Regions from separate parts of the Homo sapiens genome. Here region 2 is linked to region 1. Evidence: fine-mapped expression QTL. A gene starts in region 1. The other region holds a variant in brackets. All regions are shown on one strand. Distances are between the middles of the regions.

Region 1 (12,301 bases):
AAGGTTAAATGGGAGTCACAATAACTCCTGCTTTGGAGCCCTGGTGTGAGGACTACATGTGGCTATGCATGTGTAGGCTTGGCTCGGTCCTGGCACATCTCAAGAGCTGCACGGGGCCAGCTGCTGCTTGAGTGCAGCAACGTTGCATTTCAGCAGGTCAACAGGAACTCAGCAGTTGTTCAATTTAGGGTCCACACAATAAGAGCAGGCTGCCTGCTTGGAAACACAAGATTATTCCTGATCATAATCACTGCTAGTTATCAAATGCTTCCTCTGCCAAGTACTGCGCTATGGGCTTTACACGTGGTATTTCTATTCCTTTTAATGGTCTTCTGAGGTAGATGTTATCCTCATTTTACCAAGGAGGAACTGATGAACTGGGGGTTCAGAGAGGTTAAGTATCTTGTCCAACGTCACATGGAAGAACTGGGATTTATGGAGGAGCTGAGATTTGAAGTCAGACAAATAAATTTAACCTATAGAACTTTACAGAAGGGTGTCAATAAGGGCATGAACAATGTCCTCAACATCTATCCTTACAATATGCACAGAGGACAGTTTCATAGGGCTGTTTTTTTTAAAAACGGATTTTAACATAATTACTATGTGTACATAGACAATTAAGAATAGGGAAAAACCCCAAATTAATGTTTTAACAAGTTACAAGCTGTTACTAAAGACAATATCCTTGGATTTAAAAAAAAAAAAAAGAGTACAATAGAGGAAGTCTCTCATTCAACCGAGCAGTTTAACCAATCTCTTTTAATAAATCCAGCACATTACAGTGGTATAAATTTATCTTTTTTAACACTCCACATAAAAACATGTGTCCTCTCTTACATTTAATCATTAGTAGTCTCTAAAATGGTAAAATAAATTGAATTTACATTAGCAAATGAAAGTGCAAATTTGTACAGCTAGGCTCAGCAGCAAAAGTGAAGAATAAGAATGAAAGGTGAAAAGCTGGTGGATGCCATGCAGAGCGAGGACTTCCATAAAGGTCTGTGCCCTGCGGCCAAACACAGTCAACACACCACCATTTTCTTGTTGCTCTTAAATGAGCAAAACCAAATTTCTTTTTTATTTAATGAAATATTAAATCTTTATTTCCCCCTAACATAATTTGTGATCAAGTAGGACAGAGGTAAGTCCCACCATCACTGGGGACAGTAGCAACACACAGACTTCAGAAACAGCCTTGAATCATCAGTAACATCCTCCCCTGGTAACGTTAGAAGGAATGCATCTAATGACAAATTTGCAATGTTGTCACATTGTTCTAATTTATTTGATTAGTTTATCTGGAAAAACTTTACACATTATTGAAGACAACAGTAAATTATTTTCTTGCTCTGAAAAAATAATGTTTTTTCACATTTTAAAACCTTTTAGTATGCTTTTGCAAAAGTAGTTGCAAGAATATGACAGCTGGGTTTGCAGAATGTCCATGTACAAGTTTGTATTTATAAGAAACTGGTAATCTGCCTATAATTTGCCTCTACAAATAGAGCTCTTTAAAATAATATTTTTAAAAAAACAGGCTTAAACTTTTCCCTATTCATTCTACTTGTAGCAAAGAGGTACTTACTTTTCAAGTATTACATGGTAAAAGGCACAAGTTTTTTTTGCCAATTTTAAGCTGTTAAGCTTTAAGACCAAACTATGTGAAAAAAAATCATGCCTAGTCAATCCTAGTCAATCATTTTATAGCCAAATCCTCTTGTCTTTTAAATAACGCAGAAAAATACTAATTTGCTAAGAAGGAGCACACTGGAAAAAGCCATTTGAAAGTACTGAAGAATGAGGAGTATTTTTTTTCTACTGATGAAAATTATTAGGAAAGCTATCCTGTCTGTTGTCTTTAGCTAGTTTAAATAAATCTTTTCAAAATGATGGTCAAGAAATCTTTAGAAAACTGGAAGAGGGGATGCTCTTTTATAGCATGAAAGGAATTCCATTAATTATAGAAATTCTCGTTAAATTTTGACGTTGGTTCTTCAGAAAAAATACGCATTTAACTTCTGCAGTCTGTTGTGTTTGAACACCATCTACCTGAGCCAGGGGCCCAAGCGTTCCTTCATCATCAAAGGCCAAAACTGGATTCAAAGGAACTTCTGGGCTCTTACTGTTAGTGACATCTAATCTGGATGGTTTCGATCCAATGGGTAAATTTATAATTTCTTCAAAATTTTCATTCTGAACAGAGATACTCCATTTTCATTTGGTTTTCCAAATTGGGGGTGCTCTCCACAGTCACTTTTGATTGGTGTGAGGTAACCACATATGGGCTGGCAACTGGTTCTCCATTTCCCAGAGCATTTGTTGTACACGGAAGTATAGATAGCTCTGTTCCTCCAGTGAGAGCTCCCTTGGCTATATCACCATTTCTCTGATCAATGGTTTTCTTATCTGTAGCTTCTGTTCTCCTGCTTCAGGGCTGTTTCTTATAGCAACCCTCATATTGTTCACCAAAGCACAATGCAGTCATATCATCTGAGGACCCGGATCCAGGTGGGAATGGGAAGGTAAAGGACCACAGCTCTCAGGGGGTCTGCCTTAACCCAAAGGTAGATTTCAGTTTACAGATTAACTTCAAATGCACTAGTAAGTTTACTTATTATGTTTACTGCCTCCCCTTGCTGGAATGCAAGATCCATGAAGGCAGGGATTCTTTTCTGCTTTGTCATCATGTGACTCAAATTCCTCGAACAGTGCCTGGCACATACTAGCAGTTCTTTTTCTTTTTTTTTTGTTTTTGAGACAGAGTCTAGCTCTGTCGCCCAGGCTAGAGTGCAGTGGCACAATCTCGGCAACCTCCGTCTCCTGGGTTCAAGCAATTCTCCTGCCTCAGCCTCCCGAGTAGCTGGGACTACAGGGAGCACCACCACGCCCAGCTAATTTTTTTTTTAGTAGAGACAGGGTTTCACCATGTTGGCCAGGATGGTCTCAATCTCTTGATCTCATGATCCGCCTGCCTCGGACTCCCAAAGTGCTGGGATTACAGGTGTGAGCCACTGTGCCTGGCCAATATTTAATGAATGAATCAGGTTAACAAAAATTAAAAGTTGACAATATCGGCCGGGTGCAGTGGCTCACACCTATAATCCCAGCACTTTGGGAGGCCAAGGCAGTGGTGCACGCCTGTAATCCCAGCTACTCTGGAGGCCGAGGCAGGAGAATTGCTTGCACCCGGGAGGCAGAGGTTGCAGTGAGCAGAGATCACGCCACTGCACTCCAGCCTGGGTGACAGAGCAAGACTCCGTCTCAAAAAAAAAAGAGACTCACCATCAGAGAAATGCAAATCAAAACCACAATGAGATACCATCTCACACCAGTTAGAATGGCGATCATTAAAAAGTCAGGAAACAACAGGTGCTGGAGAGGATGTGGAGAAATAGGAACACTTTTACACTGTTGGTGGGACTGTAAACTAGTTCAACCATTATGGAAGACAATGTGGTGATTCCTCAAGGATCTAGAACTAGAAATACCATTTGACCCAGCCATCCCATTACTGGGTATATACCCAAAGGATTATAAACCATGCTGCTATAAAGACACATGCACACGTATGTTTATTATGGCACTATTCACAATAGCAAAGACTTGGAACCAACCCAAGTGTCCATCAATGATAGACTGGATTAAGAAAATGTGGCACATATACACCATGGAATACTATGCAGCCATAAAAAGGGATGAGTTCATGTCCTTTGTAGGGACATGGATGAAGCTGGAAACCATCATTCTCAGCAAACTATCGTAAGAACAAAAAACCAAACACCGCATGTTCTCACTCATAGGTGGGAACTGAACAATGAGAACACTTGGACACAGGAAGGGGAACATCACACACCAGGGCCTGTTGTGGGGTGGGGGGAGGGGGGAGGGAAAGCATTAGGAGATATACCTAATGTAAATGACGAGTTAATGGGTGCAGCACACCAACATGGCACATGTATACATATGTAACAAACCTGCATGTTGTGCACAGGTACCCTAGAACTTAAAGTATAATAATAAAAAATAAAAAATAAAAAGAGACTCCATCTCAAAAAAAAAAAGCAATGTGGCAATGTCTAGTAAAATTGAGAATGTACCCAGTAATTTTTCTAGTTAAATAACCTACAGAAATTCTAAGGCAGGTGCCAAAGGAGACACCTAAAAGCTTTTCACTACAGCAATGTTTGTAATAGCAAAAAATACTATAAATAATTTAAATGTGCATCTCTGTAAGAATGAATAAATATACTAAGTAAAATGGATGCATAAAATAGACTATTATAAAAATTAATGAGAATAAACTAAATTCTTATATTGGCATGAATAGTTCTAAAAAACAATGTAAGCAAAATGCAAAATAAAATGCAGGAATTTTATTAATGTAAAAATTTAAAATACTACTGTATATTGTTCAAGGATATCTATTAATATATTTGAATGTAAAAGTATAAAAAAAAGTAGTTGTCCATGGAGAAGTAAAAGGATGTAAGACAGGAAATGAACAAAGCAGACAGATAAACAAAACAAAGAGGGAAAAAGAGACCAGCAAGATTTTCCCTGACATTAAATACTAAAATAAAATACTTATGTCTGTATGTGGCTCAATATTGGCAGGGTAAAGTTTAAAGCTTTTTATTCTCAAGTTGATTGTAATCGTTGAGAGAACAAAGGAACACACTGGTGAGTTTAAAGCTTGGGCCTCTACCTGGCATGAGTAGCTGCTTTCCGCACCAAATCCAGAACATCTGTACTGGGGGTGTCTGACACTTGCGTGCTCTCTCTCATTCTGACCCCTTCTTTCCCCTTACATATCATTTTTTTTCCTTTCTTCCTTCCCTTGGGTCTCTTACCACAAAAGCTCCGCACCAGACTGGGGTTCTGACACTAACTTGGCATGTGATTCTGGGCTGCCACCTCACCATTCTGAACCTCAGTGTTGTCCCCTCTAAACCTGGGAGAACACCCATCCTGCCTGGAGGCAAGTATGGCTCGCTGTCAGTTCTCCTTTCTGCTGTTTCTCTATTCCAGCATCATCTCCAGCAGACTACAGGCATACAGAGCCTCCGCCTTAATCTCACCTCTGCTCTTTGTCTCTGCTTCAGCTCCTGCTGGGCTGATTTCTGTTTGGCCTTCTCAACTCTGCTGACAGATTCTTTAACTTTGGTTTTTTCTTTACGTGCAGGTGGATCCATGGCTTGACTTCTGGATATTTCTTAGGAGGCTCTGATCTGGGTGGTACAGAAAGAGGCAGATCTTCAAAACAAAACAAAACAAAAAATACCCTGCCAGTTACTCCTCTAATCCTTTAGCTCCGCCCCATCCTTTGCCAGGTGAGGCAGAGTGGTCTGGTGGCAAGGGCGCTGGATGTGGGGGAGTAGGAACCGAGTCCCAAGGCCACAACCTCGCTGGGTGTCCCTGGGCAAGTCTCCTCCCCACTTTGAGCCTTAGTTTTCTGTCTGCAAAATGGGTTAAGTGTTTTCCTGGCCTCCCTCCAGGAGCTGCTGTGTGCGGGTGAAATGCAAAGACCCCTGTGAAAGCGTTGCCCACTGTGCGGCGTGCGGCACCCAGCGCGGAACCGTCCTAATGGGACGCTGAGACCCAGAGGGCGCCCAGGGTTTTCCCACTGCGGCCGGCCTAACTCCGCCGCAGCAGCCGCTCCTGGGGCCAGGGGGCCGGGCCCCATAGCCAGCCGGGCCCGCCCCCCACCGCCCGGCCCCCCGACCCCGCCCCGGCCCGCCCGGCCCCAGGGGACGGCCCCCGCCTCCTGCCCTCTTCCCTCTCCTGGAGGAAAATGGCGGTCGCTGGAGCCGCCGACCAAGAGGCTTGGGAGTCTGTACCTTTCCCGACCGGGCCACTGGAAGTTGGAGCCTCCGCCGAGTCGCAGACAACGCCTCCGGGAGGGTAATCCTCGCCTTCCCCCGACCACTGGACCCAGCGCTGCCTGCCCACCGCCCCTCGTCCTGGGCGGGGCCGCGCGCCGGGGGGAGGGGCGCAGGGCCGAGCGCCAGGAGGCTTCCGCCCGCAGGAGCGGCCGCGCGTGCGCAGAGAGGATGGCTGGAAACCCGCGTAGAGGGCGGGGCGGGGCAAGCCGGTGCCGGGGCGGGGCAGGGGCGGAGCCACACCGGGGTGGGTGGTGGTTACGGCTAACCAAAGCTTTTTCCCGTTATATTTTCTGCAACAGCTACTAGGTTTTAGAGGGTGAGATCCGAATCCTGGAATTGGAATTGCTCAGAATTCGAATTCCGAGGCTCAATTTCTTAATTCGAAAAGTGGGGATTGATGATTGCCACCTTCTTCATTCATGAGTTTATTGGGAGGATCAAGTGAGATCCCGTTTGCCACAGTGCTTTGAAAAAGGAAATCTTGACAGAAGTACCAATAGCCAGTATAAATACAGAGAACATTCACGTTCAACTGATTACCGAGGAGATGTAAATTAAAATAGCTGGCTGTAATTTTCCAGGTATTACATTAGCAAGGATTGACAAAAATGATAATAGCTACCTTACATTTGGGCTTACTATATTCCAGGCACTGTTCTTACAGCTTCACATTTATTAACTAATTCCTCATAATAAGTGTGTATAATGTATACGTGTATATTATTATCCCCATTTACACATAAGGGAACAGAAGCATTGAAAAGTTAAGTGAGTTGTCCCGGGTCACACAGCTTCTAAGTGCTGGAGCAAATATTTCAGCCAGGATTCATAGGACAATGGCCTTATCCAAAGTAAAACCCTGTTTGGGTCCACTATTTGTTCCTCTATCAAACTGGCAAGAATTGAAACAACTGATAGATGCTAAGCAAGCAATGAACTCAGCCCAGATGGACACACGCTTCCAGTCAAACTGTAAATCGTTAACAGCCTTTCTGGAGGTCAGTTTAGTACTAGGTATCAAAAGCCTTAAAAGTGAGCACAATGCCCCAAAAAGACAAATACTGCATGTTTCCATTCATATGAAGTATCTAAAGCAATCAAAGTCTAAGAAACAGAAAGTAGAATGGTGACTGCCAGTGGCTAGGAGAGAGGGAAAAGAGGAATTGTTTAAAGGGTATAGAATTTTAGGTTTGTAAGGTGAAAAAGTTCTAGAGATCTACTGCACAATGTTTATTTTTTATTTATTTAATTTTTAAAAAATAGATGGGGTCTTGCTCTGTCACCCAGGCTGGAGTGCAGTGGTGTGATCATAACTCACTGTAACCTGGGCTCAAGCAATCCTCCCACCTCAGCCTCCAAAGTATCTGGGACTACAGGCACACACCATCATGCCTGGCTAATTTTTTAAAATTTTTTTGTAGAGATGGAGTCTCACTGTGTTTCCCAGGGTGATCTGGAAATCCTGGGCTCAAGTGATCCTCCTGCCTCAGTCTCCCAGAGTGCTGGGATTACAGATGTGAGCAATTGCGCCCAGCTTTTCCAAAATTTCTACAGTAAACGTTTATACTTTAGCAATCAGAGGAAAGTACATTAAATGTCTTTTTAAAAACCCTATACAAATGCTGATTCGATTATTATTAATAAAAGTAACCAAGTCAGAGTCTATTTCAGAAATCTTGATGTAGTACTGGTATTTTACATTTGTGTCACATGGTATGGTTTATAACGTTCATATAAGCTATGAACTAGATTACAGCTGAAGACACGGCAGGACCTTTAGAAGCCAGCTAAAAACAAACCAGCTATAGGGAATGGAGGAGTGGAAAAGCCACATGGAAGACTGGAAAAGTAGTGGTGCCACTGAGCCACTGTTGAAAGTGGAGAAGGTGTGATGAGTTGGTTTGGGAAACGGTGAGGAAGAGGATAAGTTAGGAGCGTGTGTGTGTGTGTGTGTGTGTGTGTGTGTGTGTGTGCGCGCGCGCAAGAGAGGGACCGAGAGAGAGAAAGAGCTAGATTACGCTTCAAGTGGCAATAGGCAAGAAGAATTGTCCAGTGAGCAATTAGAAGATTTCAGAAAAGAACGGAACTGGAGATACCAGTTTGGGATTCTACATTCTTTATTGGGAAGGTGAAGGTTGGAGCCAGGAGGGAGTGAATGTTGAGGCTGAACACTGTCAAAGTCCCCTCTCTATTCTTTCCATGAGTTTATGCTTTGTCTGTCTCTTTTGTGTCTACCAGTGGACTCTTGGCCAGGCTGCAGAATTTCCTGGTTTGTTGAATGACTAGCAAGAGTTTATAGTAATATAACTAGAATATTTTTACAGTTGAGGTATATACTACACTAAGATTATATTCACTTTATTGAATAATATTTTTTCTAGAGTCAAAAAATTATCTATTTTTATTTGCTTAATGATCTATGCATCCCTTGTTTATTTTTTATTTTCAGAGGTGGGCTCAAGTGATCCTCCCGCTTCAGCCCCTCAGTGGCTGGTACTACAGATGTGAACCAGGTCATTTACCAGTGTCTTTTTTTTTTTTCTTGGCAGCATCCCTCCTTAGACTCATCCTCTCTTTGCTCCAAACTCCTCTGCTTAGCCTTGCTTCACAGCTCTTGTCCTAGGATTAGGGACCTAACCACATTCTGGGGATTCTCTTCTTGTTTCTCCTGTGCCAAATCCCCTGCTCTCTGGATCTTATGTTTTTCCATTCTTGGTTTATTCTCTCATTTTGGAGGAGTATGTTCTCCACTAACTCCCCAGAAGGGGTTCATGGAAGCTAAATTTTTGAGTCCTTGCTTGTCTAAAAATGGCTTTATTTTCTTTCATCCTTGAGTGACAGATTTCCACATTGGAAATTATTTTCCCTCAGAAGTTTAACGGCATTGATTCATTGTCATCTAGCTTCTCATGTGGCTACTCTTGAGGAGACTGATTTATTCTGACTTGTGTTACTTCCCATATATTTTGTTTGTTAATTTGTTAATTTGTTTAGGATATTTTTCTCCTTTATCCTTGATGTTCTGAACGTTCATAACAAACTGTCCTTTAAGTATTTTTCATTCATTATGCTAAGCACTCGGTGGCCCCTTTCAATTGGGAAACAAAGTCTTCAATTCTGGGAAACGTTCTCTGTGATCAGTTTCTCTTTTTTTTTTTTTTTTTTTAACAAATAGAGACAGGGTCTCCCTATGTTGGCCAGGCTAGTCTTGAACTCCTGGCTTCAAGTGATCCTCCTGCCTCAGCCTCCCAAAGTACTCAGATTACAGGCATGAGCTGCTGCACCCAGCCAGTTTCCCTGTTTTTAAATTTTTCTTCATGTTCCATTTCCTGGTTTTGTTTATTCTAATTTACAAGAGATTTTCCTGAGCTGTATCCCCTGGTTCTTCTATTGAATTTTTTCATTTCTGCTACAAAAATGTTAATTTCCAAGAGTTTTTGTTTGATCCCCGACTTTCCTTTTTGGTAGCCTCTTGCTCTTATGTTGTGGATTCAGGATCTTCTCTTATTTCATATTTCTGAGGATTCCAGTTGTAATTTTCTGCTGTTTTCTTCTGCTTCCTAGATTGTCTCTGTTGTTTATTTTGGTCTCTGGCTTTCAAGTTGGAGCTTATCCTCAGACAATAACAGCTACCATTGAGTATCAGCCCCTATTTTAAGTATTTTGCATGTTTTAGCTAATTTAATCCTTACAACAACCCCGGGAGGTAGAGCCAGGCCCTGGTCCCTCCCATCCCAAGCCTGGAAGGTTCTCAGTTGAGAATCAGCTTTCTTCTTGCTGATGTCAAGGGTTGATGTCAGGAACCCTTTATCTGATGTTTCCCCCAATCCTGCCTCCCTCTGCAGGCACCTGGGTTAGAGTTCAGTTTTTCCTAGCTCTATTACTAGTGAGCCCTCTGCTTTCCTTCATTAAAGAAATGTATTGACATCTCTATTGCACAGTTACTTACTGTCCTGTTCTCTTTGTCCTTATAGGCTTTTCCTTTTGCACTCCAAGATTGTCATTTTAGATCATTTTGGGAGGTAACAGAGATAAGCATTTGTGTTCAATGAGACATGTTTATTTAACTGGAAATCTAGAGCTCCCTCTTTTTAAGTCAGGAAGCATATAGACCAAAAAAATTACAGTGATTATTACTGGATTCTGAGATTACGATTATGAGTGATATCTTTATCTATGTCTGTATCTGTTTTTCTCACTCATAGAGTTAGAAGTCTAAAAAGAACATTTCAGATAAGAAACTCATTTTATGATGTGATTTAGACTATCTGATAAAATGCTTCTGGAGAAAGCAGTAAAAATATTAATTATGACAAGTTATAAATTGGTACAATTACTTTGGAAAACAATTTAGTATCATCTATAACCTGGCAATACTACTTCTAGGTATATATTCTGAGAAACGCTTTACATTTAAAAATTATTGAGGACCTCAGGGAGCTTCAGTTTATATGAGTTATATTTTTTGAAATTTTCCATATTAAAAATTAAAACTGACTGGGTGTGGTGGTTCATGCCTGTAATCCAGCATTTTGGGAGGCCAAGGTGCGAGGATCACTTTAGGCCAGGAGTTTGAGACCAGCCTGGGCAACGTAGTAAGACCCCATCTCTACAAAAAAATTTTTAAAAATAGCTGGGCTTGGTGGCATGCACCTGTAGTCCTAGCTACTAGGGAGACTGAGGCAAGAGGATCACTTGAGCCTAGGAGTTCAAGGCTGCAGTGAGCTATGATTGTGCCTTTGCACTCCAGCCTGGGCAACAGAGCTAGACCCTAGCTCTAAAAAAAAAAAAAAAGAAAACTAAGAAAAATTAAATATAATTACTACTTTTAAAAATAAAAATAATAAATTATATAACAACAAAACATATATTTATGAAAAGCAACTTTTTTGAAACAAAAATATTACTGAGTAGCACTGCTTTATATTTATATAAATCCTTTTTAAAAAATTAATTTTTTTTTTTTTAAGATGGAGTCTCACTCTCTCGCCCAGGCTGGAGTGTGGTGGTGTGATCTCAGCTCACTGCAACCTCCACCTCCCAGCTTCAAGCAATTCTTGTGCCTCAGCCTCCTGAGTAGCTGGGATTATAAGCGTGTGCCACCACGCCTGGGTAATTTTTGTATTTTTAGTAGAGACAGGATTTCGCAATGTTGGCCAGGATGGTCTTGAACTCCTGAACTCAGGTGACCCGCCTGGCTCAGCCTCCCAAAGTGCTGGGATTACAGGCGTGAGCCACTGCACCCAGCCCTAATTAATTTTTAATTGACACATATGGTACATATTTATGGGGTACAGAGTAATATTTTGATACATACAATGTGTAGTGATCAGATCAGGGTAATTGGCATATTCATCTCAAACATTTATCATTTCTGTGTTTTGGGGACATTCAGTATCCTTTCTTCTTTATTTGAAACTACATAATATATTATTGTTAACTATGGTCATCCTACAGTGCTATAAAACAGTAGAAGTTGTTCCTCCTACCTAGCTGTAATTTTGTGTTATTGAACAAATCTCTCCCTATCCTCCCCTTCCCTCTCCAGCCTCTAGTAACCTCTGTTCTGCTTTTCACTTCTATGAGATTAACTTTTTCTTTTTTTTTAACATCTAACTATGAGTGAGAACATGTGGTGTTTAACTTTCTGTGCCTGACTTATTTCATATAACGTAATGTTTTCTAGTTCCATCCATGTCACTTTGAATGATGGGATTTTATTCTTTTTAATGGCTATAAATATTTTAGATGTCTGGCTTAATAGAAGACAGCTGTATTCTCAAGCCAGCTATATCTTTCAATCTGCTGCAGTATGTTTTGTGGTTGAAGTGTATGCAATTGGAAAAGGAGCATTTCAGTAGCTTTTTCAGATAATCGTGGATATTCTTTGATAAGACACCAAAACTCAGCAAGTGGTAGTTTTTTAAAGCTTAGTTGTGACATGAAATCTGAAACCATAGCAATGACCTTTTTATACTCTATTACAGCAACACTCACAGTTTTTTCTTGCATTTTAAATGAATGTTTTACCCATGCAGGGTTTTGTCAACACACCCATTGGTCATTTGGAAATTGCTGAGTCACTGAGTTTTACAGATCTTCTAAATGTTGACACATTTCATTATACAACATCAAAAAATCACATTTATTAATATCAATGCCAATCTCATCAGAAAAGTCTTTTGCTATTGTGAGGGTATCAAGCAGCAGATAAAAATTTTCCAAAATTCTAATTTTTGCTCAAAAGATTGAATGTTCTCATTGACAACAAACACTGTCAGTTGCTTTTCCTGAAGTGACAGGTGCACTTTATTCATTTTGGAGAAAATGCCTGCCAAATACCCAAGTCTGAATAATTATACTTTGTCTTTCAGCTGTACTTTCAGGTAAGAATGGTGCTCCATGAGTCAAGCGAT
Region 2 (12,301 bases), 20 kb after region 1:
TTTTTTTGTTTTGAGATAGGGCCTTGCTCTGTTGCCCAGGCTGGAGTGCAGTAGTGCAATCATAGCTCACTGTAGCCTTGACCACCTGGGCTCAAGTAATCCTGCCACCTCAGCCTCCCAAGTAGCTGGGACTACACATACACTACCATGTCTGGTTAATTTTTTTTTTTACTTTTAGTAGAGACAGGGTCTCCCTATGTTTCCTAGACTGGTTTCCAATCCAGCAATCCTCCCCGCTTGGCCTCCCAAAGTATTGGCATTACAGGTGTGAGCCACTGCACCCAGTTGAGAGTGTTCTCAAACTAGCTTCAATATTTAAAAAAAACAGTTTACTGAAAATCAGTCCACAAAAATCAGTCTACTAATATTTTAAAAAATCAGTCTACCAAACCAAACCCAACTCAACCCAACCCAAACCATGTCTTTGCATTTGCTTGAATGACACTGGCTTCACATGGTCACATGCTGATTATCTTTTGGTCATAATTTGAAGTCACACACCATGAAGTGGGGATGAATCAATTACTTTAAAACACTCAGTAGTTGGTAGACAGACTTTCCAAATTGGAGTCCTTTGGGGTGAAAATTAATTTTTTTTTTTTTTTTTTTTTTTTTTTTTGAGATGGAGTGTTGCTCTTGTTGCCCAGGCTGGAGTGCATTGGTGCAATCTTGGCTCACTGCAACTTCGCCTCCTGGGTTCAGGTGATTCTCCTGCCTCAGCCTCCTGAGTTAGCTGGGATTACTGGTGCCCGCCACCATGGCCAACTAATTTTTTTTTCTTTTTTCTTTTTTTTGGAGATGGAGTTTCACTCTTGTTGCCCAGGCTGGAGTGCAATGATGCTATCTGGGCTCACCACAACCTCCGCCTCCCAGGTTCAAGTGATTCTCCTGCCTCAGCCTCCCGAGTAGCTGGATTACAGGCATGTGCCACCACGCCCGGCTAATTTTTGTATTTTTAGTAGAGACGGGGTTTCTTCATGTTGGTCAGGCTGATCTCAATCTCCCGACCTCAGGTGATCCTCCCACCTCAGCCTCCCAAAGTGCTGGAATTACAGGCATGAGCCACCATGCCCAGCTGAAAAGTAATTTTTAAAAGGGGACCGAGGTGCCCACAGGAATCTGAATCATGTGATACAGTTATTGCTATGGGTGAATTTTTAAATGTCTGAGAATAAAGCTAGAGACTGGCTTATCCCATTAGGAGGAGCGTGGGGAGAGAGTGGAGAGAGGACAAGTTCCATTAACAGCTGCCCCTGTTCATCACAGGAGGCTATGGGGGAAGAGGGCCATGGCCAGGACCATACCCTGGCAGAGGCCCTGCTGGTGTGCAGATAGGTGGGATGGTTCCCAGAGCCCTGGGCCAAGTGGAGAGAACCTCAAGGCAGGGTACTTCCATCCCTGTCAGAGGCCCACTCTCTGGAAAAAGCTGGGCTCTTCCAAATAGCAGTGTCTAGCAGAGTCAGGGACAGCACACTGGGGAATGTGTCCTGAACCATCCACAACATGGCCCTTGGCCAAGAGAAGACCACAGCTGTGGTCATAACAAGTAAAAGCTGGGGTGGAAACAGGTTTGAAGGCGCTGGTGGTTCCTGAGGAAATTCCTACCCTAGCAGGAACTTTTTGAGGAATTTTCAATTTTTTTAAATTCTAAGAATAAAGCATATATATTGTAGAAAATTTGAAAAAAATCCAAAATATTTAAAGGAAACTGAAAAATGGCCTATAATAGCTTAAATTAGAGAGAACTGCTGCTAACATTTTTGTATCTTTCTTGCAAGACTTTTTTGTATATATGTATCTCTGAGCATGTATGTTTACACATGTGTATTCTTGTGCCCAGGATATTTTTCCACTTATGATATCATGAGCATTTGTTTTCTTTGCCCATGTCCCTAAGTAATATGATTTTAAGGGCTGCATAGTATTTTGCCATGTGGCTATAGAATAATAAAATTAATCAAAGCCCTGTTTCTGGGCATCTGGATGCTTTCCAAATTTTCCTCATATTATAATGAAGGGTGCAATGAACATCTTTGAACGTATTTTGGAAAGTGATTTTGATTTTTTTTTTAATAATGTACTTCTGGCAGTAGAATTAATGGGTCCAAGGGTTCAAACCTTTTACTTATTTTTTCTTTTTTATTTATAATAAAGATGAGCTCTCACCATGCTGCCCAGGCTGGTCTGAAACTCCTGAGCTGTAGTGATACTCCTGCTTCAGCCTCCCAAAGTGCTAGGATTACAGGTGTGAGTCACCACACCTGGCCTGAACCTTTTAATGATCCTTGAAACGAACTGGAGACCAGCCTGGCCAACATGGCAAAACCTTGTCTCTACCAAAAAAATACAAAAACTAGCCAGGCATGGTGGCATGTGCCTGTAATCCCGGCTACTTAGGAGACTGAATGCTTTATATGACTGACCTCTTTAAATCTCTCCAAACCTCAAAGAGATAAGGAGTCCTGTCATGCACACATTTTACAGATGAGGGACAATGGGCTGGGAGGTGCTCAGTCTCCTGCTTTGGGTCACACAGCATTGAGCAAGGACATACTCCCAGCTTAGGCTCTTAACTACTTCTACCCATAGCCCGCTTCTGCTCGTTTCCTCTCCTCTATTTCCTCTTTCTTTTCCCCTTTCTCTCCTGCCTAGGCTTCAGGCCTACTGCTGCGGCATCATAGAAATTGCTTTGCCCCCGTGGACAGTGCTCAGGGCAAAGAGGTTGCTGCCTGCTCTTCTAGAGCAGAGTGAGGATTGACAGGGGTAAACAGGCAGGTGCTCCTGGGAAGACTGGAGGTGTGTAGTGAGGAGAGTGCCTTCAGTCCTCTGAAGTCCCGGGCTTATTTTTCCATTGAATTATAGGGCAGGATGAGATTGTGGTCAAGAAGTTTGTTTAAGTCATCATCTTGAGGCAGGACCATCCAAACCATTCCCGAGAGAGGAACATCTCAGTTTTTGTTTGTTTGTTTGTTTGTTTGTTTTTGAGATGGAGTTTCACTCTTGTCACCCAGGCTGGAGTACAATGGTGTGACCTTGGCTCACTGCAACCTCTGCCTCCCGGGTTCAAGGGATTCTCCTGCCTCAGCCTCCTGAAGAGCTGGGATTACAGGTGCCCGCCACCACACCTGGCTAATTTTTGTATTTTTAGTAGACACGGAGTTTCCCCACATTGGCCAGCTGGTCTTGAACTCCTGATCTCAGATGATCCTCCTGCCTCTGCCTCCCAAAGTGCTGGTATTACAGGCGTGAGCCACCGTTCCCAGCCTCAGTTATCTTTAATGCTATCCAGGGCTTGAGTTATCAGAGAAGCAAAGAGCCTCTTGGCCGGAGCTCTCTCCCTAGAGGTGATGGAGAGTGTTGGGATGTGCTGGAGCCGCCTGCCATCTGAGGCATGCCAGAAGCTCTTAGACATCTCCCTGAGGTCAGTCGTTGGTGGTTTCTGTTTCAGCCCCATCTGTGGGGAGTCTCTCCCCCTCAGCAGTGGCTCTGGCTGTGATCCTGCCTGTCCTGGTACTTCTCATCATGGTGTGCCTTTGCCTTATCTGGAAGCAAAGAAGAGCAAAAGGTAATTAAATGGTAAGGGAGCTCAGGCTGGTGGGAAGTGGGACTATGACTGCTCTGGGAAAGGGCCAGACGGAAGTAGATGTAGACCTGACACTTCTCCATAGGTTGGGGACACTGCAAGTTGGCTGGGAGAAAACTGGTAGAGCCATGCCCTGGGGACACACATTGCAAAGGGAGTTCAATAAACTGCAGAAAGGCCCCTGGGCAGAGCTGTAAATTCTCATCCTTTGAAAAATAAGAAAATAACCGACTATGCCAGCCTTCTAATTAACTAAGAAATGAATTACAGCCCTTTAATAAAGAAATCCAATTATATCCATTGGATAAGACTCTCATAAAAAATGGTCACATTTCACAGGATCTCAGGGCTGCAAGGGACTTTGAAAGTCACAGTCATGTAATCCAACACTCCTGCCCTTATCTGATGGTTTGAAGACTCTCTAATCCTTTCAAATGCCCGCTTACCTGTAGTGACAAGGAGTCAGTCCTACTCAGGCAGCTGGGGGCATCTTGGGACACTTGTGCCTGTTAGAAAAAGCCCTTCCTAAGCTGAGCTGGCATTTCTCTCTCCCTTTTAGAAAAGCTTCTCTATGAACATGTGACGGAGGTGGGTAAGTGTTCTTGGCTGGGGGGCAGGGGAGATGTTTCTTTTGTTGTTAATTTCTGTGCCCCCCATACCCACTAACCTGGATTCTGTTCCTGAAAATTCCATTATCTGCTATCCTTGGTGATGGTGGCAATGTCTAAATCCGTTGCTTCCAGTTTTTACTGCCTCTTACTTGTAATAGCTTTGCCTTCCTGTATGTTTAATGATTTTTGCCTGTGAGCTCATTGCTTGATCTTATTCTATGGGAGTCGAGTAGCTTGAACATGGGGGAAGCTTTTATTTGTTCAACAAATACTTGATAATTATCTACAAAATGCCCTGGACAATACTAGATTCTGGGGATGCAATAGTGAGTAAAAGCAGACACAGTTTTTGCCCTCCTGGAACTTTCAGTGTAGTCAGGGAAATGAGATGAATTAAATAGTTAACACAAATAAATGTGTACAAAAGCTACACAAGAAAGCTCCTGGTTCTGTGAAGGCTATGACCAGAATGAACCAACCAAGCTTGAGGGTTGAGGGTATGAAGTTTGTCCTGAAGGACTAGAAGTCATGAGTGAAGAGGGAATGGAAAACCAGCCACCGCAGAAAGAACAGCTTCAGAGAGAAGCATGGTCGGGGAAAGCAGCACTCACTGGGGAGTTGAGGAGGTGCAGGAGTGAGGGGAAAAGTGGCAGGGGTGAGGCTGGGGAGTGAGGCGGAGCTGAGCCTCCTGAGGCCTGGTGGGTCACATTCAGGATTTTAGTCATTCTCGTAAGAGCAGTGGTAAAGCAAGGAATGGGGATATCAGATGTAATTGTGCTTTGAAAAACTTGGCCGGGCATGGTGGCTCACGCCTGTAATCCTAGCACTTTGGGAGGCTGAAGAGGGTGGATCACCTGAGGTCGGGAGTTCAAGCCCAGCCTGATTAACATGGCGAAACCCTGTCTCTACTAAAAATACAAAAATTAGTGGAGCATGGTGGTGCGTGCCTGTAATCCCAGCTACTCAGGAGACAGACAGGAGAATTGCTTGAACCCCGGAGACAGAGGTTGCAGTGAGTCAAGATCGTGCCACTGCAATCCAGCCAGGGTGGCAGATTTTTAAAAAAAATCTGCAGTGAGTCAAGATCATGCCACTGCAATCCAGCCAGGGTGGCAGATTTAAAAAAAAAAAAAAAACTAAACAATTCTCTCAGGCTGCAGAGTTTAGTAGAGACCAGAGGGATTAAGACAGGATGTGGGAGACAATTTGGGCTGCCATTTCTGTTGTCCAGGTGAGAGTTGATTAGAGACCGGATCAGGGAGGTGGAGGTGAAGATAGAGGTGGACAGGTCCAAGGGCAGGTAAAATCAATAGGAATCAGGGATCCTCAAGGCAGTGGCAAAAAATCTCATTATCTTTTCCTTTCTTCCTCTAGACAATCTTCTTTCAGACCATGCTAAAGAAAAAGGTAATGATATAAAAGAGTAAGGGGTAGGGAACAAAAAACACATTCTTTATTTTTCTATGTAAATGTTGACAGTCATTATTATAAGTCTATTTTTATAATACTGTACACACATGCACACATATATCCTCCATTGATATTACTGGAATTTAGTGTGCAATGTTAAGGGGCTGTGGAGCTTGTGGCAGTGGGTAAGGAGGTGCCCAGGTCAAAATTCACAGGCCTAGATTACCATAAACTCCCTTCATTAGCCTTTCCGCCAACCATTTTAAAAAGAAGTCTACATATTATTGAAAAGTATATTAATGTGGTCATATGGGATATATGGGAATTTCAAGAATCCACACAACCTTTGCATAGAGAGAGGTGGTATGATACAAAGGAAGGGTCGCAGGCTCTGGGGTCAGTGACACCTCAGATCATTGGTCTGCCACTTAGGTTTTGGTTTCCTCATCAGCAAAATGCAGATAACTTCCCCTTACCTGATTGTTTTCAGTGTTAAAACAGGCAACCTTAAAAAAAAATCTGTCACAGTGCCTGGAACTCCTTTTCCTTATTGCCATTTTGTCTTCATTAATTTGACATTTACTGTGGGCCACTGAGTTGGACACCTTGTTGAAGTCTATCTGGGAAGACAAGTCACTGGCTCAGATGACTCCAGATTCAATGATGTCAGCGTCTCCTCTCTTCCCTCCTTACATTTCCTCCAAGCTGGTGCAAGCGTGGCGTGTATCTGGCAGACACTGGCTGTTCTGCTCAAGTGAAGAGGGAACAGTGTGGGGTAAGGGAGAGGGCCTCTAACTCAGGAGTCAGACAGACTTAGATTGAATCCTGCCTCCTTGGTCACTTACTAGCTGGAAGACCTTGGGCAAATTTTGTGTCCCTTTGAGCCTCAGACCACCCCCCTATAAAATGGCAATAATAATTCTAGGCATCTCACATTATTGAGAGGATTCAGTGCCTACTTCAGTATAAGCACAGCAGACAGTAAATGGAAGCTGTTAGTAGTGGAGATGGTAACAATAAACCATAAGCTCCTTAGGAGCCGTGTCGTATTCGGCTGCATTGCTCCAATGCCTAATGCCTAACACATGCCCGGCCCTTAGCACAGGGACTGGTGGTGGACTCAGGATGTGTAACTTCAATTGTCTAGCAGGGCCAATGCTGGGTAGGGGGAAATGTGGGCCACATGGCCCTCCAGAGAAGCTGCAAGTACTCCCCAGAAACACATGTCTCATACACATGTCCCCAAATCTTCTGGGACCTCCAATTTGTGAAATTTATAACCTCAGGGGAGTTACTGTAGAGAATAATACAGCCATATTAACAAGTTCATGCTAGGCCTTTAGCTAGTTTTACACCTTAGATACCATAAACGGTGGGCTATAAAAGGACAGCAGTGCATACACTCATGTACCGCAGTTACAAACATATAGAAACACTCATGCCGACAGCAGAAATGAAACCAGACAGATGAAAAGGAGGGGAAGGGGAAGGAGGAACCAAAGT[C/A]CCGGGCAGGCTGGGTCACTGGGACAGTGTCACCAGCACCATCAGATTTCTGGGTCTGAACTCTGGGACACGGAGCTGGACTAGGGACATAGAAGCGTCACCATCATTTTAATCTTGTGGGTTGGAGTGATGAGGCTGCCACAGCTCTGAGGAAAAAGAGGCAGGATCTGATCACTCACTCTTCTCTCTCTTTCTGGTTTTTAGGAAAACTCCATAAAGCTGTCAGTAAGTTTTGCTCCTCATCCATGGCACAAGCTCCTTCTGCTGACACTTTTGCTTTGGGATGAGCATCTCAGTTTCACTTCCTGGGGCAGAAGGGAGGGGGTACTGGTAATTCAAGCCATGGGGACTGGGGCTTTCTTGGCTCTCAAAGGCCTCTTTTCTCAAGTATTCTCTGCTCCTCTTTCCTGCACAACTATTATTTAGTCTTTAAATGAAAAACGTTTCACCAGGAAGAGATAGATGCATCTCCCATAGGTGAAGCCATCTGGAAGTCCCTTTTATCACCCAGGCATGACATTTCCTTAGATGGGGTCCAGGAGGACAGGATCCTTATTAAACTGAATATGCTGGAGCAGTACTTCTCCATCATTTCATGTGTGAGGACCTCTTTTTAACATTAAAAAAAAATCTGGCCAGGTGCAGTGGCTCATGCCTATAATCCCAGCACTTTGGGAGGCCAAGGCAGGTGGATCACTTGAGGACAGGAGTTTGTGACCAGCCTGACAACATGGTGAAACCCCGTCTCTATTAAAAATACAAAATTAGCTGGGTGTGGTGGTGCACGCCTGTAATCCCAGTTACTTGGGAGGCTGGGGCAGGAGAATCGCTTGAACCTGGGAGGCGGAGGTTGCAGTGAGCCGAGATTGCACTATTGTACTCCAGCCTGGGCAAAAAGAGCGAAACTCCATCTCAAAATAAAAATAAAAATAAATCTGTAGACATGTGACATATCTATGCATTAATTATTACATTGAGAAAATATACATGATCACAAAGTCCAATACTCAGTGATAGTTTTAAATGAAGTAATATTTCCTACAACATCTACATAATTTATGTTGTCATTACCTGTAGGTGTGAGATGTGTTATTTATTTAGCCTGCAGATAAGGTTTGGCTCACATAGGAATTTGCTGATCCTCTGCAGTATCTCTGGGGATACTCCCATGGTCCACAGCTGGGATCTACTGCTCTTGCAAACTCTTCTGGGGAAGTTCCAGGGTATAGCTATTGAGTATCTGTCTGCTCATGGTTGGGATGGGACTGTAGCATTATGGGAGGGCCTCTACATAGAGGCCCTCCTTCTGATTTGCCAAATTGTTTTCATTCTTTAGAGAAACTCCGGAGTGAACTGAGTAAGTTTCCCATGTTCTTGTAACTTCCGTACCAACTTATCTCCTGTTGCCCTAATATTTGCAGTGATAGCTCATTCCCCTTGTTTCTTCTTTCATAGAGTTGAAAAGAGCTGCAGCAAACTCAGGTGAGATGCACTTTCTCCACATTTGACCACCACCCTACAGGAGTTCTTGATGTCTCTGGTACTTTAATGATCCCCTTTTCTCATTTTTCAGGCTGGAGAAGAGCCCGGTTGCATTTTGGTAAGTTATACCAATCAAATAGGTCCATATCTCAGAGCACTTCCTCCTTATGGCTTTGTAACCTTAGATTTTGTTCCATTCCTCTGGAATGCAGGTAATTTAAAAATTTTTAAATCAAATCTGTATATCTGACTATCAAATTAAAAAAATCTTTGTGATCGATCTTGAGGTCATATTTAGATTTAGAAAGTATCCCCTCTTTTAGAGCACTGATAATATTAGGTTTGGTCTTCTTAAGGGTTTTCTGTGGTTTTTGAGATTTTTCCTATGTTTATCAGTTATTTGTATTTCTTCTTTGTGTGACTTGTCTGTTCCTGTTCTATTTGGGCTTTTTTTTGATTTGTGAAGACTCTTTCTAGATAAAGTATATTAGCTCTTTGTCATATTTGTCACCATTACTTTTCATTTGTACTTCCTTATAGTATTTTTCTGATGCATAAGTGTTTTATTTTTACGTAGTCAAATTCATTCATCTTTTTCTGTGTAGTCTCTTCCATGCTTTCAGGTTTGGGAAGTCCTTCCTATCCCACAACCAGATAAATAGCCACTGCTTCCGCCTCTTTCTACACATTTGCTTTTTCTTCTTTCTCTGCAGACCAATTTGCTTAGGGGTGGTGATTGAGATTCTCAGAGAAGAAGGGAATGGGTTGAGCAGATGCCCCAACAATATACATTATGAAAAGATTTGCACCTCTCTTTCAATGTATTCCTAAATAGTTTGCATTTTTTGCTGCTGTTCAAATGGGACCTGTTTTTTTCACTGCTTTGGGATCCTTATCAATTTTCTAGGCTTTTATCCTCCTCCTGTTCACACCATCTTCCTTCAGGCAGAGTACAACAAATTATGAGTTGGCCACTCGAGAGAACTCCAGGTCACCTTGGCTGGCATTCTGGGAACTTACAAACCCTTCTGTCTCACATTTACAGTCTGGCTTATTGCCACCATCTCAACTGTGTATGGTTTATAGACTTAACTCTCTAAGAAGAAGCTGTTTCCTGTATTTGGGGAAGGAAGGAGACTCACTGTGACACTCATAATCCACAATTTTAGGGAAGAATCCTTCTCTCTATATTAACATTTAAAAATAATAATTTCGTCCTACGTACTTGGGAGGCTGCAGTGGGAGGTTCACCTGAGGCCAGGAATTCAAGGCTGTAGTGTGTTATGACTGCATGCCCATGAATACCTACTGCATTCCATCCTGGGAAACATAGTGAGACCCTTCCTCAAATAAAATAAAATAAAGCAGATAATTATAAGTAATAATTTTAGGTGACAGAATGAATATCATGCACTCACTGTAGGAATGAGGCACTATATCATTAGTTCATCAAGTCTGCACAATAGCTCTACAACACAGGTTCTGTTACTATTTCCATTTTACAGATGAGGAAACTAAGGTTCAGAGATGAGTAACAAGCCCAAGGTCACATAACTAGCATGTGGCAGAGCTGGGATTCAAACATGCTATGTGGCTACAGGATCTAACAACAAACCCTGTATTTATCATCACACATTTGATTATTTTGGAACATCAAAGACAAATGTGGTGTCTTACTCTGTTTTCTGTTGCTATAACAGAATACCCGAGACTGGGTAATTTATCAAGGAAAAAGGTTTATTTAGCTCATGGTTCTTGGGGCTGGATGGTCCAAGATTGGGCGACTGTATCTGGTGAAGGGCTTGTGCTACTTCATAGTATGGTGATAGTTGCTTCTGGAAGAACAGAAGGGCAAGTGAGTGCCTCCAAAAGCAGAGAGGAGACAAAGTGCCCTGACCTGCTTTATCATAACCTGCTCTCCAGAGAAATAAACCCAGTGTTGTGAAAACTGCATTCATCTCTTTGTGAAGGACCCAAACACTTCCCACTAAGCCCTACCTCTGAACACTGCAGCAATGAGGGATTAAGGTTCCAACACGTGAACTTTTGAGGGACACACTTAAATCATAACAGGTAGTTATTTCCTGAGGATTAAAGCAGTTTCACAGACAGATGAAGAAGAACTTTTTCTTCTATTACTTAGTAATCGACCAGGAGACCTATTCTTTGAAAGAGAATATTCTTTGGTTCCAGTACACATGGTGGGGGCGGGAATCCATGAACTAAAATGGGCTAATGACAGTGATGGCAGACCTAAGATTCTTTTTCCCTCCAAAGCCATCCCCAAATCCCTTAAGACCTATACTTCCAAGCCTCACCTGTCTGTGTCTCTTTGCAGTGGCAGTGACCCTGGACCCAGACACAGCACATCCCAAACTCATCCTTTCTGAGGACCAAAGATGTGTAAGGCTTGGAGACAGACGGCAGCCTGTACCTGACAACCCCCAGAGATTTGATTTCGTTGTCAGCATCCTAGGCTCTGAGTACTTCACGACTGGCTGCCACTACTGGGAGGTGTATGTGGGAGACAAGACCAAATGGATTCTTGGAGTATGTAGTGAGTCAGTGAGCAGGAAGGGGAAGGTTACTGCCTCACCTGCCAATGGACACTGGCTTCTGCGACAGAGTCGTGGGAATGAGTATGAAGCTCTCACATCCCCGCAGACCTCCTTCCGCCTTAAAGAGCCTCCACGGTGTGTGGGGATTTTCCTGGACTATGAAGCAGGAGTCATCTCTTTCTACAATGTGACCAACAAGTCCCACATCTTTACTTTCACCCACAATTTCTCTGGCCCCCTTCGCCCTTTCTTTGAACCTTGCCTTCATGATGGAGGAAAAAACACAGCACCTCTAGTCATTTGTTCAGAACTACACAAATCAGAGGAATCAATTGTCCCCAGGCCAGAAGGGAAAGGCCATGCTAATGGAGATGTGTCCCTCAAGGTGAACTCTTCTTTACTACCCCCGAAGGCCCCAGAGCTGAAGGATATAATCCTGTCCTTGCCCCCTGACCTTGGCCCAGCCCTTCAGGAGCTCAAGGCTCCTTCTTTTTAGGGATATGCCACATTACCTGCTCCCATCACCATCCAGCCCAGCACCCTGGACTTCAGTCGCCTGGCCCAACCCCATGATTATGGAACGTCTCTTCACCTTAACCCAAATCCAGACCCTTTTGTGGTTTCTATTTGTACCACTTTTCTCCCAGGCCTCAGTTCTGAAGCTTACCTTTCTTCTAAGGAATTGAAGCTCCCAGTGACCTGGAGGGAGGATTCCTGGAAACCAAACAATCAGTTTAGGTGCAGGTGGAGATGTTGAATATGTGTTACCAAGATACAGCACAGGTTCAGGGAAAAGAGTTCGCTACTCCAGGGGTTATTTAGAAGACACTTTCTCTGCCTCATCCTGCCCTCAAGCTTTAGTCAAGAAGTTATGGCCCCCAGTCCCTGACTTCTTACTTATCCCATTGAGGACTGCCTTTCTCTCTCTCAGTTCTGGCCTCTGCCCCCCAAAGTCAGCTCTCTAAAAGCAAGCATGTTTTAGACCACTCACTCTTTCCCTCTTTCTTCAGGAATGAATTGGGAAAGGCTGATGAGTAAAACATACCATCCTTTTCTATTTTCTTGATGCTGTTTACAACATAGTTTGGTGATATCCAGAGCTAATGTACATGCTTTCAAAAGCTAATCTGCCTGTTGATGGTAACTAGGTACAG

Which allele goes with the higher level. Alleles are on the strand shown, and positions count from the first base shown. SD is a standard deviation of normalised expression in the study named.
As copies of C replace A in region 2, the expression in thyroid of the gene that starts at base 5,773 in region 1 goes up (moderate effect, 0.40 SD a copy in GTEx).

Evidence for each region. PIP is the estimated chance that this variant, and not a neighbour inherited with it, causes the effect. A credible set is the group of variants that fine-mapping cannot tell apart.
Region 2: its variant is the best candidate, but not a certain one, in a credible set for the expression of ERMAP in thyroid (GTEx, PIP 0.53).

The regions. Positions count from the first base shown.
Region 1 is chr1:42,811,350-42,823,650 of GRCh38, forward strand. ERMAP (erythroblast membrane associated protein (Scianna blood group)) reads left to right here and starts at 5,773. Exons shown (of 12, transcript NM_001017922.2): 1 at 5,773-5,904. SVBP (small vasohibin binding protein) reads right to left here and starts at 6,048. Exons shown (of 3, transcript NM_199342.4): 1 at 5,841-6,048; 2 at 5,082-5,231. The coding sequence starts at 5,195. RefSeq lists silencers at 4,922-4,991, 5,552-5,751, 5,902-6,191.
Region 2 is chr1:42,831,590-42,843,890 of GRCh38, forward strand. It overlaps ERMAP (erythroblast membrane associated protein (Scianna blood group)), which reads left to right. Exons shown (of 12, transcript NM_001017922.2): 5 at 3,449-3,565; 6 at 4,143-4,175; 7 at 5,569-5,601; 8 at 7,312-7,332; 9 at 8,444-8,464; 10 at 8,563-8,589; 11 at 8,681-8,707; 12 at 10,928-12,301. The coding sequence ends at 11,643. It overlaps ZNF691-DT (ZNF691 divergent transcript), which reads right to left. Exons shown (of 5, transcript NR_186083.1): 3 at 11,815-11,861; 4 at 11,186-11,327; 5 at 10,306-10,424. LOC124904163 (a long non-coding RNA gene) reads right to left here and starts at 6,070. Exons shown (of 2, transcript XR_007066035.1): 1 at 4,251-6,070; 2 at 311-3,542. The variant C/A (reference allele first, on the strand shown) is at 7,108.